Regions from separate parts of the Homo sapiens genome. Here region 1 is linked to region 2. The links come from fine-mapping of genetic effects on gene expression. A gene starts in region 2. The other region holds a variant in brackets. All regions are shown on one strand. Distances are between the middles of the regions. Region 1 overlaps CSK (C-terminal Src kinase). Region 2 holds the start of CPLX3 (complexin 3).

What was found.
Region 1: its variant is fine-mapped to the expression of CPLX3 in whole blood (TOPMed, PIP above 0.99).

Annotation. Positions count from the first base shown.
Region 1 is chr15:74,799,068-74,807,520 of GRCh38, forward strand. It overlaps CSK (C-terminal Src kinase), which reads left to right. Exons shown (of 13, transcript NM_004383.3): 5 at 205-424; 6 at 1,345-1,438; 7 at 1,614-1,679; 8 at 1,756-1,855; 9 at 1,945-2,035; 10 at 2,455-2,528; 11 at 2,628-2,823; 12 at 2,930-3,016; 13 at 3,264-4,130. The coding sequence ends at 3,446. Among named protein-coding and RNA genes, the nearest start is that of LMAN1L, 9.5 kb to the right of the region's middle. RefSeq lists enhancers at 1-487, 763-1,614, 1,017-1,136, 1,141-1,435, 1,615-2,464. The variant G/A (reference allele first, on the strand shown) is at 4,957.
Region 2 is chr15:74,823,135-74,831,587 of GRCh38, forward strand. CPLX3 (complexin 3) reads left to right here and starts at 3,493. Exons shown (of 3, transcript NM_001030005.3): 1 at 3,493-3,733; 2 at 4,900-4,987; 3 at 6,996-8,453. The coding sequence starts at 3,570. The coding sequence ends at 7,220. LMAN1L (lectin, mannose binding 1 like) reads left to right here. Exons shown (of 14, transcript NM_021819.3): 12 at 425-548; 13 at 1,217-1,344; 14 at 2,342-2,620. The coding sequence ends at 2,471. It overlaps LOC105370897 (a long non-coding RNA gene), which reads left to right and starts at 4,998. Exons shown (of 2, transcript XR_932478.1): 1 at 4,998-5,754; 2 at 5,984-6,567. RefSeq lists a silencer at 3,475-3,682.

The DNA.
Region 1 (8,453 bases), 24 kb before region 2:
GCGGGTGCGGGACCTCACAGAGCAGGGCTGGGGGCAGAGGCAGGAGGGTGGCAAAGAAGGGACAGGGAGCAGAAGAAGAGGGCCTCAAATGCCTGACTGAGCGAGTGCGAGCCACGGGTGCCAAGCAGAGGGAACCCCTTCAGAAAGGGGAGCCAGGGTCAGTACCTTTGGGCCACCATGACCTCCAGCCCTGCTGCTCCCCAGTTGGTTCCACGGCAAGATCACACGGGAGCAGGCTGAGCGGCTTCTGTACCCGCCGGAGACAGGCCTGTTCCTGGTGCGGGAGAGCACCAACTACCCCGGAGACTACACGCTGTGCGTGAGCTGCGACGGCAAGGTGGAGCACTACCGCATCATGTACCATGCCAGCAAGCTCAGCATCGACGAGGAGGTGTACTTTGAGAACCTCATGCAGCTGGTGGAGGTGAGCTGGGGGGTACAGAGCCTTGCTCCCACCCTCACACACCCTAAACCCATCTGGGGCCCTGGCTTCTAGCTCCAGCCCCACTGCTTCTGCGTGGTGACCAGCCATGTGGGGCAACTTCTGTGAGCCCTTGTTTCCTCACACCTTGGTGGAGCAGCTGCTGCGTGCCAGGACTCACCTCTGACCCCACAGTGCCACCATGAGGAGGGGAGCCTTATCCTCATTTTATAGACCAGGAGTTGAAGGTTCAGAGCAGTTAGGGGACCCACCTGAGGTCCCACAGATATAATTTGGTGCCAGGACTAGAATCTGAGTCTGTCTGATCCCAGAGCTAACTTTCCTCCAGCCACTCACAGACCTGCATGCTCAGAAGCGTGTGCAGAAACATGAGCCATGCGCCTTGATCGCCAGGGCCCCTGAGGCTCTCGCACCTGCACGGACATGCCCACAGGTCCCTGCAGCTTCCCAGGCCAGCTCTGCCAGCCCTGGCCAGGCCACACCTGGCATCCGGTAGCCACAGGAAGCCTCCCGTGTCCCTCTGTATTCACTCTTATCTCCCTCCCCTACTGGCCTGGCTTGGCCTGTGGCAGGTGAGGGTGGGGTCCTGGGCACTCCTGGCTAGAGGCTGGTTTCAGGACTGAGCCATGGGTTGCCCTCTGCATCAGATACCCATGGGGCCCAGAGTGGTAGCAGCAGCTGAGTGTCCAGCAACCGCATGTAGGGTGGCATGGGAAATGGGCCATACGTCATAATCTGGGACTTCCCTAACCCCTGCCCTACCAGAAATGGGGAGCCCTCCCCACTCAGTGACTCCAGGCTAGGCGGGGCTGGCCTCTGCCGCCCTCTGGTGGTCAGGCCTGGACGGTGCATATGGGGCACCTTGGGCTGTCTCTGAGCACCCTGCCCCCCACACCCTGCAGCACTACACCTCAGACGCAGATGGACTCTGTACGCGCCTCATTAAACCAAAGGTCATGGAGGGCACAGTGGCGGCCCAGGATGAGTTCTACCGCAGTGAGTGCACCCCACCCCAGACCTCTTGCCCACCCACCTCCTCCCACGCAGGCTTCCTGGCACTGCCCCATCCAGGAACCTCCAGAGAACCCCAGTGCCTGATAGTCCAGTCAGCCTCTGTCATCCCAGCCATGTCCCTAGTGGCCTCCAGGCCCTCACTGGCCCCTCCCCACAGGCGGCTGGGCCCTGAACATGAAGGAGCTGAAGCTGCTGCAGACCATCGGGAAGGGGGAGTTCGGAGGTGAGCTGGGCCGGGCCCCCTGGGGGGGTTCTGAGGGACTCCGAACTTGGGAACAAGACCACCTCTCTGCCCCCAGACGTGATGCTGGGCGATTACCGAGGGAACAAAGTCGCCGTCAAGTGCATTAAGAACGACGCCACTGCCCAGGCCTTCCTGGCTGAAGCCTCAGTCATGACGTGAGTGGGGGCGGGGTAGGGGGGAGGTTGGCCTAGGTTAGGAGTGAGGCACCAGCTTCCCCTTTCTGACCACTCTCGTCCTGCCCCAGGCAACTGCGGCATAGCAACCTGGTGCAGCTCCTGGGCGTGATCGTGGAGGAGAAGGGCGGGCTCTACATCGTCACTGAGTACATGGCCAAGGTGGGCACCTGCCGAGACCCGGCACTCAGGCCTTCCAACTGCCCCGAAACCCCCACTGTGCTCTAGGGCCCCTGCTCCCTCAGTCCCCCGACCCCAAGTGAGCTTTTAGGTCACCAGGGCTGGGCTTTTGTCCTGGTTTACCATTCATTGACTGTAACATTGGACAAATCATGTCACCTCCAAGCCTCAGCATCACATCTGGGAAATGGAGATAATAACAACTTAGAGATTTGTGAGAGTCAAGGGATAAGGCATGAATAACACAGAGCAGTGTCCGGCATGGATGTTCTGGCCCCTCCCCACTCCTTCCCTGTCTCACACCTCCCTGGAGTGTCAACACCCACCCGGCCCCAGCGTGCTGTGTGAGAGGGCTGCAGGGCACGTCTGACCTCGGCCTGGTCTGTCCTTCCTGCCCCCAGGGGAGCCTTGTGGACTACCTGCGGTCTAGGGGTCGGTCAGTGCTGGGCGGAGACTGTCTCCTCAAGTTCTCGCTGTGAGTGAAGCAGCCTCTTGGATGGGTAGGGTTTGAGGGGTACCCTGCCCTGCTATGGGAGCCCCAGTCTGAGGGGACATGTGGCTGGCCTACCCCCAGAGATGTCTGCGAGGCCATGGAATACCTGGAGGGCAACAATTTCGTGCATCGAGACCTGGCTGCCCGCAATGTGCTGGTGTCTGAGGACAACGTGGCCAAGGTCAGCGACTTTGGTCTCACCAAGGAGGCGTCCAGCACCCAGGACACGGGCAAGCTGCCAGTCAAGTGGACAGCCCCTGAGGCCCTGAGAGAGAAGGTGGGGCTGGCCTCCCCTGGGGCCTACAGAGGTGGGCAGGAGTCCTGGGTCACTCCCCACCCTGGAGTCCCAGGATCTGACGCTGCTTCTTCCATCCACATGGCAGAAATTCTCCACTAAGTCTGACGTGTGGAGTTTCGGAATCCTTCTCTGGGAAATCTACTCCTTTGGGCGAGTGCCTTATCCAAGAATTGTGAGTATGGGTACTGGGATCAGGGTGGCTCTTGGAGCACCGGAGGGGTTGGCAGGGGCGTGAGCCTCCTTGGGCCCTGCCTCCCCAATCAAGGCCTAGAAGCCTCAGGCCTGCCCTGGGGAGCTCACAGGCCACTCTCCGGGCCTGGGTCTGCGGCAAAGCTGATGGGCATCCCTGAGAGGCTGCTGGGTAGGTGTCCTCTCTGAGGCCAGGGCCTGGACTGACTCCTGCCTCCCCCTGGCCACAGCCCCTGAAGGACGTCGTCCCTCGGGTGGAGAAGGGCTACAAGATGGATGCCCCCGACGGCTGCCCGCCCGCAGTCTATGAAGTCATGAAGAACTGCTGGCACCTGGACGCCGCCATGCGGCCCTCCTTCCTACAGCTCCGAGAGCAGCTTGAGCACATCAAAACCCACGAGCTGCACCTGTGACGGCTGGCCTCCGCCTGGGTCATGGGCCTGTGGGGACTGAACCTGGAAGATCATGGACCTGGTGCCCCTGCTCACTGGGCCCGAGCCTGAACTGAGCCCCAGCGGGCTGGCGGGCCTTTTTCCTGCGTCCCAGCCTGCACCCCTCCGGCCCCGTCTCTCTTGGACCCACCTGTGGGGCCTGGGGAGCCCACTGAGGGGCCAGGGAGGAAGGAGGCCACGGAGCGGGAGGCAGCGCCCCACCACGTCGGGCTTCCCTGGCCTCCCGCCACTCGCCTTCTTAGAGTTTTATTCCTTTCCTTTTTTGAGATTTTTTTTCCGTGTGTTTATTTTTTATTATTTTTCAAGATAAGGAGAAAGAAAGTACCCAGCAAATGGGCATTTTACAAGAAGTACGAATCTTATTTTTCCTGTCCTGCCCGTGAGGGTGGGGGGGACCGGGCCCCTCTCTAGGGACCCCTCGCCCCAGCCTCATTCCCCATTCTGTGTCCCATGTCCCGTGTCTCCTCGGTCGCCCCGTGTTTGCGCTTGACCATGTTGCACTGTTTGCATGCGCCCGAGGCAGACGTCTGTCAGGGGCTTGGATTTCGTGTGCCGCTGCCACCCGCCCACCCGCCTTGTGAGATGGAATTGTAATAAACCACGCCATGAGGACACCGCCGCCCGCCTCGGCGCTTCCTCCACCGAGCCTGCTTGTCCTGCCCGGTCGTCCCTCCCATGCCATCTTGTCCATCCCCCTGTGTCTGTGAGTGGGGCTGGGTGGGGAGCATGGCTGGGAGATGTAGCCGCCGCTTTGTGTCAGCTGCACGAGTGAGTGTCCTTGTGTCTGCCCTCCGGGAAGTGCTCACCAGTTGCCCTGCTGCCGCCAGGCCCAGCTCCGGGGCCCCATCTACAGGATGCTGCCTGGGGGTTCCAGCTGCCTCCCCTGCTGTTTTCAAGCCTGCCGCACAAGGAGGGCTACAGCTAGGGATGGGAGGGAGCCCAGGCCTGCACAGATGGGAACGGGGTTCTAGTCAAGCCCCCTGTGCAAGAGAGAGAAAAAGCAATGGTGGGCCCAGTGGGCTTCCTCTGGCAGGAGGAGAAGTGTCTCATGCCTGAGAAGATGCTGACCCGGAGAGGGACGGGAAAGCTCCTGGTGGTTCTCCAGTTTCACCCACGATGTCACAGCTTTGCCCTGTCCCCACCCCTGCCATGTGCCAGGCCTTAGGTCATACCAGACTTGGCAGGGGTTGAGGATGCAGGGCAGAGGGGAGATCCTGGCACCTTCCAGTCAGGGGGAGTCCCTCCCCACCCCACCTTGTCGGGGAACATATAGAGAATGTGGACCAGCCATGAGATTTTCTCCCCTCACTCAGGTTGTCCAGGGGCAGTGGTCAGTACAGAACCTCTGAAGGTGTGAGGAGGCTTCATGTATTCCCTGAGGCAGGCAGGTGGGGTGTTCCCCTGTCCTGTTGTGGCCCCGACCCTTCCTCTACCAGCCAACAGGACCTGAAATCCAGGAAGATCTGACTTC[G/A]AAGTCTACCTTGTGTCTGTTCCTCAGCCCCACTGTAGTTCCATCTACCAGTGCAACAGCCTCCTCGCCGCCTCCACTTCATCTTCTCTGCATACTGCCAGACTTAATTTTTCTAAAACTACACCATTCATTCAACAACAAATATTTGAATACCTGCTGTTTGCTAGGACTGAGGTTCATCAATAAGCAAAACACACCCTGTGGAGTCCACAGTTGGGAAGACAATCAAATAGTCACATATAGACAGTGACAAACTTAAGTGCTACATGAGGAACACAAAACATGGGAATCTTTGTAGATCAGGGAGGGCTTCTGGAAAGAAGCAGCGTTTAAGCTGAGATCAGAAGCAGAATGAACAGGTTGTATGGCAGGAGTTAGCAGCATTCCAGGAAGAGATGCTGAGACTGGAGGGAGGGCAGCTTTGTCTCAGATCTCCAAGAAAGTGGGTGAGGATGGACGAACAGCCAGGCCTGAGAGGTGAGGCTGTGGCTGTGGCAAAGACTTAGCTTTTATCAAACAGAGAATAATGGGAAGCCAATGACAAGTTTGATCAGGAGGGTGAGATGTCAGATAATTTTTGTTTGTTTGTTTGTTTTTGAGAAGAAGTCTTACTCTGTCACCCAGGCTGGAGTGCAGTGGTGCCATCTCAGCTCACTGCAACCTCCAGCTCCTGGGTTCAAGCGATTGTCTTGCCTCAGCCTCCCAAGTAACTGGGATTACAACAGGCATGCGCCACCATGCCTGGCTAATTTTTGTATTTTTAGTGGAAACGGGGTTTCGCCGTGTTGCCCAGACTGGTCTCAAACTCCTGACCTCAGGTGATCCACCACCTCGGCCTCCCAAAGTGCTGGGATTACAGGCGTGAGCCACTGCACGCGGCCCAGATATGTGTTTTTGAAATCACCCTAGCTACTGGTAGAGGAGTTTCAGAGAGTACAGTGAGGACTGGTCCAGATGAGAGACGGTCTCCAGAGAGATTTAGCTCCAGAGCTAAAATTGACCGAACTTGGCTATGGATTCAGTGTGAGAGTGGAGGAGAGGGAAGGGCCGTAGCAAGGCCTGATTGAGCAGAACGGATGCAGGGAGGGCAGCAGGGGGCATCTGCTGAGCGAGGACAGGAGACTCATGCTTAGGAGGGAGTATCATGAGCTCTGTTAAGGACATGTTAAGGTTTTTGTTGTTTTGAGACAGGGTCTCGTTCTGACACCCAGGCTGGAGTCCAGTGGTGCAAACACAGCTCACTACAGCCTTGACCTCCCAGGCTGAAGCAGTCCTCCTGCCTCAGCCTCTCAAGTAGCTGGGACTACAAGTGCCTGCCACCATGACTGGCTAATTTTTAAATTTTTTGTAGAGACGAGGTCTCCCTATGTTGTCTAGGCTAGCCTTGAACGCCTGGGCTCAAGCAGTCCTCCCACCTCGGCCTCCCAAAGTGTTGGGATTACAGGCGTGAGCCACCACACCAAGCCACACATTGAGTTTTAAGTGAGGCTTTGAAACTGCCAAGAAGCTGGGCGCGGCGGCTCACGCCTGTAATCCCAACACTTCAGGAGGCCAAGGCCAGTGGATCACTTGAGGTCAGGAGTTAGAGACCAGCCTGACCAACATGGTGAAACCTCGTCTCTACTAAAAATATAAAATTAGCTGGGCGCAGTGGTGCACACCTGTAATCCCAGCTACTCTGGAGGCTGAGGCAGGAGAATTGCTTGAACCCAGGAGGCAGAAGTTGCAGTGAGCCGGGATCATGCCACTGCACTCCAGCCTGGGCAACAAGACCAAAACTGCATCTCTCAAAAAAAAAAAAGGTCAAGAAGAGGAGGTTGACCATGCCAGTGCCATGTCGTAAAAGCCAAGGAAAAAGAACTTCAAGAGGAGGAAGCCACCAGGGTCCCCGCCTCCCAGAAGGCACAGAGATGGAGGCTGAGTCTGCCCCTTGGTTTTTATTTATGTATTTATATTTATTTTTTGAGACAGAGTCTCACTCTGTCACCGAGGCTGGAGTGCAATGGCACGATCTCGGCTCACTGCAAGCTCCACCTCTCAGGTTCACACCATTCTCCTGCCTCAGCCTCCCGAGTAGCTGGGACTACAGGCGCCTGCCACCACTCTCGGCTAATTTTTTGTAGTTTTAGTAGAGACGGGGTTTCACTGTGTTAGCCAGGATGGTCTTGATCTCCTGACCTCGTGATCCACCCGCCTTGGCCTCCCAAAGTGCTGGGATTACGGGCGTGAGCCACCATGCCTGGCTATTTATTTTTTTTGAAATGGAGTCTCGCTCTGTCGCCAAAGCCAGAGAGCACTGGCACAATCTCAGCTCACTGCAACCTCCACCTCCCAAATTCAAGCAATTCTCCTGCCTCAGCCTCCCAAGTAGCTGGGATTACAGGTGCCCACCACCACGCCTGGCTAATTTTTGTATTTTTAGTAGAGACAGGGTTTTGCCATGTTGGCCATGCTGGTCTTGAACTCCTCACCTCAGTGATTCATCCATCTCGGCCTCCCAAAGTGCTGGGATTACAGGCATGAGCCACTGCACCTGGCCAAACTGCCCCTTGGTTTTAGCCACAATGTCTGTGTTGATAAGGGCTGATTCCAGATCACAGTGACTAGAGAAGGGTGTGAGAAACGCAAGAGGTGGACAGTCTGAGAAATGAAGTTGTAATGGAGAGATGAGAGAGGAAGAGTGACAGGAGGATGTGGTGGATTTAGGGTTTTTTTCTTTTTCTTTTTCTTTTTTTTTTTTTTTTGAGATGGAGTCTCGATCTGTCACCTAGGCTGGAGTGCAGTGGCGCAATCTCAGCTCACTGCAACCTCAGCCTCCCGGGTTCAAGTGATTCTCCTGCCTCAGCCTCCTGAGTAGCTGGGACTACAGGTGCCCACCACCACACCCAGCTAATTTTTGTATTTTTAGTACAGACAGGGTTTCACCATGTTGGCCAGGCTGGTCTCGATCTCTTGACCTCCCAAAGTGCTGGGATTACAGGCATGAGCCACCGCACCCGGCTGGTAGATTTAAGACAGCAGAGTCTTGAGCAAATTTGGCTGCCAAAGGGAAGGACATTGACCTTTAAATTGTACTGAGTACTGAGAGTGAGGCAAGAGATATAGACAGGAGGGGTGGTATGTAGATGGTAGAGCCTTCCTTAGAGCAGGGGGTGGGTGGTGGGAACCCAGAACATGGGGGAACCGGCCTGAGATGGGAGAGGGATAGTCCCTCCGCAAGTGCAGAGAAGGAGGGAGACTCAGGCAGTGGTGCACTGATGAATGTTTAATATCCAAATCTAGGACACGGGCTGGGTGGGGTAGCTCTGATTTATAGCATTTGCTGATATCCGCGGAGTTAATACTCTGACTGTGGTCAATTTCAAGCACCAATCTGACTTCACTGAATACAGCGCTGGATGGGGATTCCAGCAATCAGCTCTCACAGCTGGTCCAAGCCAGCTAGGATTCAGAAACCCACAGTGAAGCCCGTGGCTATAGGGTCACAACAGGGGCCA
Region 2 (8,453 bases):
CAGGCCTCTGGAGCCCTGGGGGTTGGGGGAGTCCTGGGGATGCTGTGGAGGAGGCATGCATCCCAGGCTGAAGCCTAAAGCCCCACCTGTACACACACAGCTAGATGCCTAGGGTTGGGGGTGGAGAGGCACCTAGATGAGAAGAAGGAAAGGAGTTAAATCCCCAGGGGCTGGGAATGGAAGGCAGAGCCGGGGAGCCTGGGGTTGACACAGATAGCTTTAGGGAGATCTTTATCTGAGCTAAAGTCTCAGGATCTAGGAAGAAGGTTGGAGGTGAAAAGACCAGCCCCCAAGAAGGGGCCCCATGGATGGTACCTGTTCCCCATCCATGTGCTGCCCTTGGGGAGATGGGAAATGATTAGGCCATCTGGGTGGAAGCAGAAGAGGTAATGAGTCATCTTACTTGGTTACCACCCCCGGTTAGGGATGCAGCTGTCCGCATGGCTGCAGAAGCCCAGGTCTCCTACCTGCCTGTGGGCATTGAGCATCATTTCTTAGAGCTGGACCACATCCTGGGCCTCCTGCAGGAGGAGCTTCGGGGCCCGGCGGTGAGGGGAAAGTAGTGGGCAGCATGGGGTCCCCAACCTTGACGTCTGGGCTCAGCCACCCTTCTTCCAGCACTTCAGCAGCCCCAAGCCCTCCTGCCTTTGCCCTCCCCTCCCAGGACTGCTGGCAAGCACATCTGTGCCTGCGTCAGTGTCTGTGTGTCCGTGCATACGTGCCACCACACATCTCATCTTTTCTCTGTCCTCTCTCCTCTCTGAAGAGTCCCACAGACTCAGCAGCAGCAGGGCCCTGGACACCCCTCGATCCAATATCCAATGACCAGAGGGGAAACAGGGTGGGCTGTGTCCAAGATCACTGAGTCCAGTGGTAGTCAGCGCTTCCCCATGCCCTGTCCCATCCTCGTTCCCTCGCCCTCACCCTGCTCACCCTGTCTTTGGCTCTTTACTTCTCTCTTCTCTTCTCTTGAACCCTGGGCCCCTTGATGATCCCAGGCCCCAGGCCTTCCCAGCTGTTCCCACAGATGCAGCCATGGGAGCTGGGGTGGGGGAGGCAGCTTTGTACACTGCCCCCTCTCCAAGTTCCCTGGATGAGAGCCAGGACGCCCCAAGCCTGGGGAAAGGAAACGGAGCATGCACATGGCCTAGATTCCAGGTCCCCCACTCCTTCTGGGTAAGAAGCTAAGCTAGGACCTTAGACTTTCCCCTTTCAGAAGGCAGCAGCCAAGGCCCCCCGCCCACCTGGCCAGCCCCCAAGGGCCTCCTCGTGCCTGCAGCCTGGCATCTTCCTGTTCTACCTCCTCATTCAGACTGTAGGCTTCTTCGGCTACGTGCACTTCAGGTGGGCCACCCCGTGAGCAGGATTTCCCACAGCACTGGCATCTCTTGGTTCTCAGCTATAACCATTGGATTTAGGAGAGGGGACACTTCAGCTCAGAGGGGACCTGCCGAGTCCCCAAATCACAAAGAGCACAGTGCGGGATAGGGCCCATTCTCTCACCAAGCACTACTGACCACCTGCTCGGCCCCCAGCCCCATCTGGGTCCTGCTCTCACGGAGCTCACTCACACAGGTCTAACTGACCCTGTGTCGTCAATGCCATGATGTCAGGAAGCTGAGGGGCTACGAGAGTGCAGGAGAACACACTTGACCCCCCTTGGTTAGGGAATCAACCTGGAAGGGACATTTGATATGGTCATTAAGGTGACTAGGAGTTTTCCACCCTGACAAGATAGGTAAAGGCATAGAGGCAGAGGGAACAGCATGAGAAAAGGCAGGGAGGCATGAGAAAAACATAATATTTTAGAGAAAAAGTGGCAAGTTCAGTAATGTTGGAGCAAAGGGCAGGACGAGTTTGTGAAATTGGGCAAAGAGATCTGAAAAAGTGAGAGGAGGTCACTAGTTTTGCTTGGTGTGTGTTTGCTGAATGAACGTGCACCGTTTAGAGATGTGGGGTGTGCTAAAGGCCTCAGCAATGAGACTGACAATCTTTGTTGGTGGAATTTCAAGACAAGAAGAGTCCGTGTGGGCTGGGATGGTCCTGGAGGAGGAGTAAAATGAGCTAAGCTTTAAAAAGCACAAGGTAGAAATGCTCACAGGCTTCAGCACATGCACAGGAGTGCAGTGGTGGCAATCAGCCTGGAGCCACTAGGACAGACCTTACATGCCCAGGGGGAAAGCGTGGACCATATGCAGCGGGCCAAAGGAGCCACAGAAAGTCCAAGAACAGCGGAGGTTGTGGTGCAGTGAGTGTAGCAAGGCAAGCATGAGAGTCCTGGTTTTTCAAAAGCCCATAAAGGAGAGACGCAAGTAACCTGTAACCTTCTCTCTGGCAGCAGGCAGGAGCTGAACAAGAGCCTTCAGGAGTGTCTGTCCACAGGCAGCCTTCCTCTGGGTCCTGCACCACACACCCCCAGGGCCCTGGGGATTCTGAGGAGGCAGCCTCTCCCTGCCAGCATGCCTGCCTGACCCACCTCAGAGCCTGCTTTGCATCACTGGGAAGCAGGCAGTGTCTTGGGTGGGGGCTTGGTCAGTATCCTCTCCGTCTGGGTGCCCAGCTCCCACGCACACCTGAGCTTTCGGCATGCTCCCACCTCGTTAAAGGTGATTTCCCTCTCCCCATGCTGTGATATGCTGGTCTTCTTTCCAGCCTCACCCTAATCTCTGTGAAGGCTTCCACCCCTTCTGAGTACCTGGCTGGGAGTGCGCTCCAAGCAGGCAAGGAGGCCAAGGCCTGGCTTAACCTCCAAAAGACCGGATACCCCACGGGCTTTGAACCCTCGACTATGGAGGGAAAGAGAGCCATGACTGTATATAATTCTGTCCTCAAACTCACCCATAACAGAGAGCAGTGTCTCCCAGTGTCCCTCCTGGCCCAGCTCAGCCAGCATCACTGAGCAGCTCTCTCCCTCCCCACTCCTAGCTGCTCCAGGGGCAGCAGGGGAGGCGCGTGACAGAGCAACCCTGAGAGGCCAACTCGTGGAACCATAACTGGGATTCCCGCTCGCGCCCTCAGGTCTCCCTCCCTTTTCCAGCGTCAAGCTCTCTGGGCAGCTGCTGGGTTCAGTGACTTGGGTGGGTGGGGAGAATGGGGGGCACCCAAGGCTGGGTTTTTACCCCTTGCTGCTACCTGGATCTCCCAGCTGAAATCCTAGTTATTAGTGGCCCAGGAGAGGAGAAAGTTGGAAGAGGCTATGGAACAGGGTTCCGGGAGTGTATGAGCTCAACCCCTCTCCCGGGAGAGCGACCCCACCACCGCAGGCCCTAATCCTCTGTCAGCAGTGCCCAGCGGAGCTCGGCGTTGAAGGAGGCACGTGGGGGAGGCGGGAGTGGGGAGCGGGCACGTGGTCCAGCCTTCTCAGCCCCGTGCTGCCCCCCGCCCCCAGTGAGGAGGGGTTTGGGGAGGTGGGGGCGGGCCCGGGCGGGGGCGGGCGGCGGGCGGTGCCAAGCGTGGGGCGCGGGCCCGCGGCGGGAGCTGTCCGCGAAACCTAGTGCTGAAGTAGGCGCGGACGTGCCCGGTGCCTGGCGCGTGGTAGCAGGCGCCCGGTGCCCCGGCCGGCGAAGACCATGGCGTTCATGGTGAAGACCATGGTGGGCGGCCAGCTGAAGAACCTCACTGGGAGCCTGGGAGGCGGCGAGGATAAGGGAGATGGGGACAAGTCGGCAGCCGAAGCTCAGGGCATGAGCCGGGAGGAGTACGAGGAGTATCAGAAGCAACTCGTGGAAGAGAAGTGAGTGGGATCCCTTCCTGGCTCCAACGACCTCCCCTCCCCACCCCCACAGCTGCTCAGTCCATCCCCGGGCCAGCCTCAGGTCCCAATCCCTTCTCCCCTACTTTCCTAGACACGGTAAGAGACCGGGAGGTGTCCTCTACACTGCCCCCAGACCCATCCTATCTGACACCCAAAACCCCGCTCCAGCATCATGCTCCGGCCAAGGGGGAGTGGGGGGAGGGGCGACCGGACGAGGGACCGACCGGAGCCTGGGACGAGGAAGGGGGTGCACGTGCGTTTCTGACGAAACGATAATCCCTTAATCCGATCTGGTCCCAGCCGCCTATGTCTTCCAACTGGGGCTCCTCTGAACTTGAGGCTCTGAAAAAAGTGGTGCAGCCGCTCAGAGTCGCGGAGACAGACCCTGAGATGGGGGCACTCACAAACATTGAGCACTTGTGTGCCCGCAGTGCTGGGACAGAGTTTGGGGCTGGACTCTGCTGCTAGGCTACTTGGGTTCAGAGCCTGGCTTTGCCTATTAGCTGGATAACTTTAGGCAAGTTACTTAACCTTTCTGTGCCTCTGTTTCCTTTTCTGGAAAGTGGGGATGGTAATCATAATACATGCCTTGTATATTTATGAAGATTAAATGCCAATGCATGTAAACTGTTTAGCACAGCACCTGGCACATGATAAAGTCTCATAAATGATAGCTATTATTTCGCTCAATCCTGATAACAGTTTTGTGAGTTGCAAAATTTTATCCCCATTTTACAGAAGAGGAAGGTAAGTGACTTACCTAAGGATATACCTAAAATGGTAGTGGAGCTGGGATGTGAACCCAAGTTTGGCCTGAATACTTTTCCCCACATGACATAGCTTGTCAGTGAGGGAACAGCAGACCAAGTTGGAGGCCATGAGGGACAAATAATTAGGATCTGCAGAGAGAGCCAGACAGACTGCCACCCTGGTTCCCTAGTTCCATCCAGTGGCAGAGACGACAAAGGGCACTGTGATGGGCAGAGGCAGCAGAAACCTGGATGTCCGGGTTGGAGCGCTTTTGCTACACACAGGGACCAATGCAGCAGCTGCTAGGACTCAGAGACCCCTTCTGTCCCTCCCTCGAAGACCTCAACCCCCTTCTCTCAGCCCTCGTGGTGACTCTGCCTCCGGTGACCCTGCAGGATGGAGCGGGATGCACAGTTCACACAGAGGAAGGCAGAGCGGGCCACACTGCGGAGCCACTTCCGAGACAAATACCGGCTACCCAAGGTAAGCTGGCCCCGGCTGTGAGGCACATCTGGGACCCTGAGCTCTGGGTTCTGGACTCCTTCGCCCCATTCTGGGCACCACAGCCCTCAGCTATGAGACTCACAGGGTATTTGGTTAGATCCTTCCTTCTCATTCATTTGTTCTTTTATTCATTCACTCACTCGTAGTTAAATCTGTGCCCACCAAGGGCCAGGGCTTTGTGCTGAGGGGACCCCAGTCCTCATGAGACTGACAGGTCTGTATTTCTGGAGCCAATCTAGGCCTCTTCTCTCCTCCACCCCCCATATCCCCACCAAGCCTGGGCCAGGCCTGGGCAGAGGAAGACACAGGGGAGGCAGAAATCAGTAGATTTGACTGCAGAGGTGAGTGTTCTGGGGGTTTCTGAACCTACTGAAGGGCAGAACTTACTTAAGGTGGGGGAGAGAAGCCCTGTGTGTGCCAAGTACTTGACCTTCATGTCCTCATCTAACCCCCAATAATGCTGCCAGGCAGCTATCACCCACAGCGACAAAAGATGAAACTGAGGCTAAGAGAAATGGAGGGACTTGGCTAAGATCATACAGCCAGTGAGCCATGGAGCTGGGACCAGCCCTCAAGCCGGTGAATATGAGCCTGCCTTTGCTCCAGGGCCCCAGGCTGCTTTCCAGAGTATGGAGTCTGCCCGTAGAGAGCCAAGTACCCCCTTGGCCGGCCAAGCAGCCAGAGAGTATATCTCAGGAGATCCCTGCCCCCACGCTCCCCTGGGCAGTGCACCACCAGATGGGCGTGTAAGTGTGCTGCTCCTGTTGTCTAAGGAGGGGAATGAAGCACAAATCTCTCCCAGAATATCACCCTAGTGCATCCAGAACTGTGCTGGACTCAGGGGAAAACAGCACAGGGCTATAGCGCTCCTGATTTTGATCTTCCACTTGAATTGAATGACCAAATATATGAACATCACATTCACTCATTCAACAAATATTTACTGAGTCCCCAGCTGCTTCTGACTCCCCACAGGGCACCAATCTTTTGGAAATCTGTCACGGGGAAAAACCGGTCCAGAAAGCCTGCCTCACTGCAAACTCTTCTAGGAATAAAATCATTCCTCAGATGCTTGCGCTAGGCATATAAGAGACACCTGCCATCAGCAAAGTCAGAGTTGAGCAGAAGAGCCAAGACTTGGATGCAACTGAGTAGGACATAAGGCGCCCCCCAGAAGAATAGTGAAGGGCAATGGTCATCGTAGGTGCCATGCAAAAAAACACAGATGTTGGAATCAGTGACATAGGTTTGAATCTAGCTCCCCAACATCCTGCCTGTGTGATCTTGGATAATTTAAGTTACTTAAGTTACTTAAGTTAGTTAAGTAACTTAAATTTAAAGTAAGTTACTTAAATCCTGTAAGCCTCAATTTCCTTATTTGTGAAGTGGAAATAACAATACCTACCTACCTCACAGGGTTATTGTGAGAATTAAAAGCACCCAGCTCAACGTCTGCCATGTAATAGATATAATAGATGTTTGATAAATGGTACCCATCACTATTTTTGGTTACACCCTTAAGCATAACAAGAGTCAAAACATGACTTAGCTGACTGTAACAGTGTGACTCATAGGTATTTTCATTTTGTCTTTACTCACTGTGCTGGTCCTTCAGCATCTCAGAGTGAAATAAGGTAATATAAAAAGGTCTCCATGTCCAGGCATCAAACGCTTGATCCTGGGATGTGGGGGTGGGAGCTGAGCTCACTGGAACATGGGGCTCAAGAATCTAAGGGGCCGGGCACAGTGGCTCATTCCTGTATTCCCCCGGCACTTTGGGAGGCCAAGGTGGGCATATCACTTGAGCCCAGGAGTTTGAGACCAGCGTGGGCAACATAGGGAGACCTCGTCTCTACAAAAAAAAAAAAAAAGAAAAAATAGAATCTAGGGGCCTGGAACCCAGTCCAAGCCTCCTCCCTGTCCTCTCAACTCTGGGTCCTCACAGACTTCCACTCCACCCCACCCCCTCTTCCCCTCTTCCCTTCAGAACGAGACAGATGAGAGCCAGATCCAGATGGCAGGTGGAGACGTGGAGCTGCCCCGGGAGCTGGCCAAGATGATCGAGGAGGACACAGAGGAGGAGGAGGAGAAGGCCTCAGTCCTTGGGCAGCTGGCCAGCCTTCCTGGCTTGAACCTGGGCTCACTCAAGGACAAGGCCCAGGCCACACTGGGGGATCTCAAGCAATCAGCTGAGAAGTGTCACGTCATGTGACCACTTCCCCGGGGTTACCCACTGGGCTGGGCCCCCATGAGGGCTAAGAGTGTGTCAACTTCCAGGGACCCATACTCCATTTGGGGCTTTGTTTCCCTTGCCCCATCCTAGTTCCAAGACCTTTCCCATCCATGCCCCAAGCCTATCTTCTGGTTTCTTCCTCTCCGCTGGGAGTAAAGTCCCCATCTTCACTCTACCCTTCAGGACCCTCCCCACCAGCTCAGCCTGTGGAGGCCTCCCAAGATTGTAGGAATAGGCCCATCCCTCTCTGGCCATGGCCCCAAGTTCCTGCACACAGGAGCACCCACAGAGAGACACACACAGGACACAAAACCCCTGGCACGTTCAGAGACAGAAGCCACAGATACATCCCGGCACAGACAGACACACACGAGGCCAGCTCCCTTGCGTGTCCAGCCCCTCCAGACACCACCACTCAGAAACTCTGAGAGAGAGCATGGGCAGACACCCTCAGCAGACAGGAGGCCTGAGTTCCAGTCTCCACCTTTATTGTTCTTGAAAGCCCCTGCTCTCTCTGAGCCTTATTTCATCATCTGTAAAATGGGAATGTCCTGAATGACTTCTAAGGCTCTTTCTGGCTTGAACTGTCAGAGCCAAGCCCACATCCCTCCTTGGGCAGGGCAGCAGCTGCTGCCACAGCCTCCAGCGGCTGCCACTGTGGGCTCTGGGAGCCGGAGCGATGCTGTGTGAGAGGCAGAGTGCCAAGGATGAAGCTGGCACTGAACAGTAAGCGGCTCCAGGCCTCCTCTGGGCCCAGGGCCCAGCCAATTTCTGTTCTGTTCCTGTAGAACGCTCTCTGGATTCCATAGCTGGAATCTCCTCTCTTAGCTCAGTGAAAAATAAAAATCCCAAATGGTGTGCCTACCTTCCCACTTCTTACTGGCTTCCAGGAGTCTTGGAGTTCATAGCCCCCCGAGCCTGCCTTAAAGGGGTGTCCTCCACCCCCCACCTACAGCTTCACAGGAGGGGAGAAGGCATCCAGTGCTAGGAGTAGAAGTGTCTCCAGCTCTGTTCTCTTGGGGCCCTGGGTGAAGGTGGGGTCTGGGGCTTATGAAATAGGTCTGGGCTTTGAGGAGGATGGAGCAGCCTCATTATGTGGGGAAGATGGGGCCTCTGGGGCGTCACTGAGACCACAGGTGGGGCCGGGGCTGGACCGCAGCTGTCTTGGGTGCCTGTGCCTACACCCCTCCTCACCCTAGAGACGGAAGATGT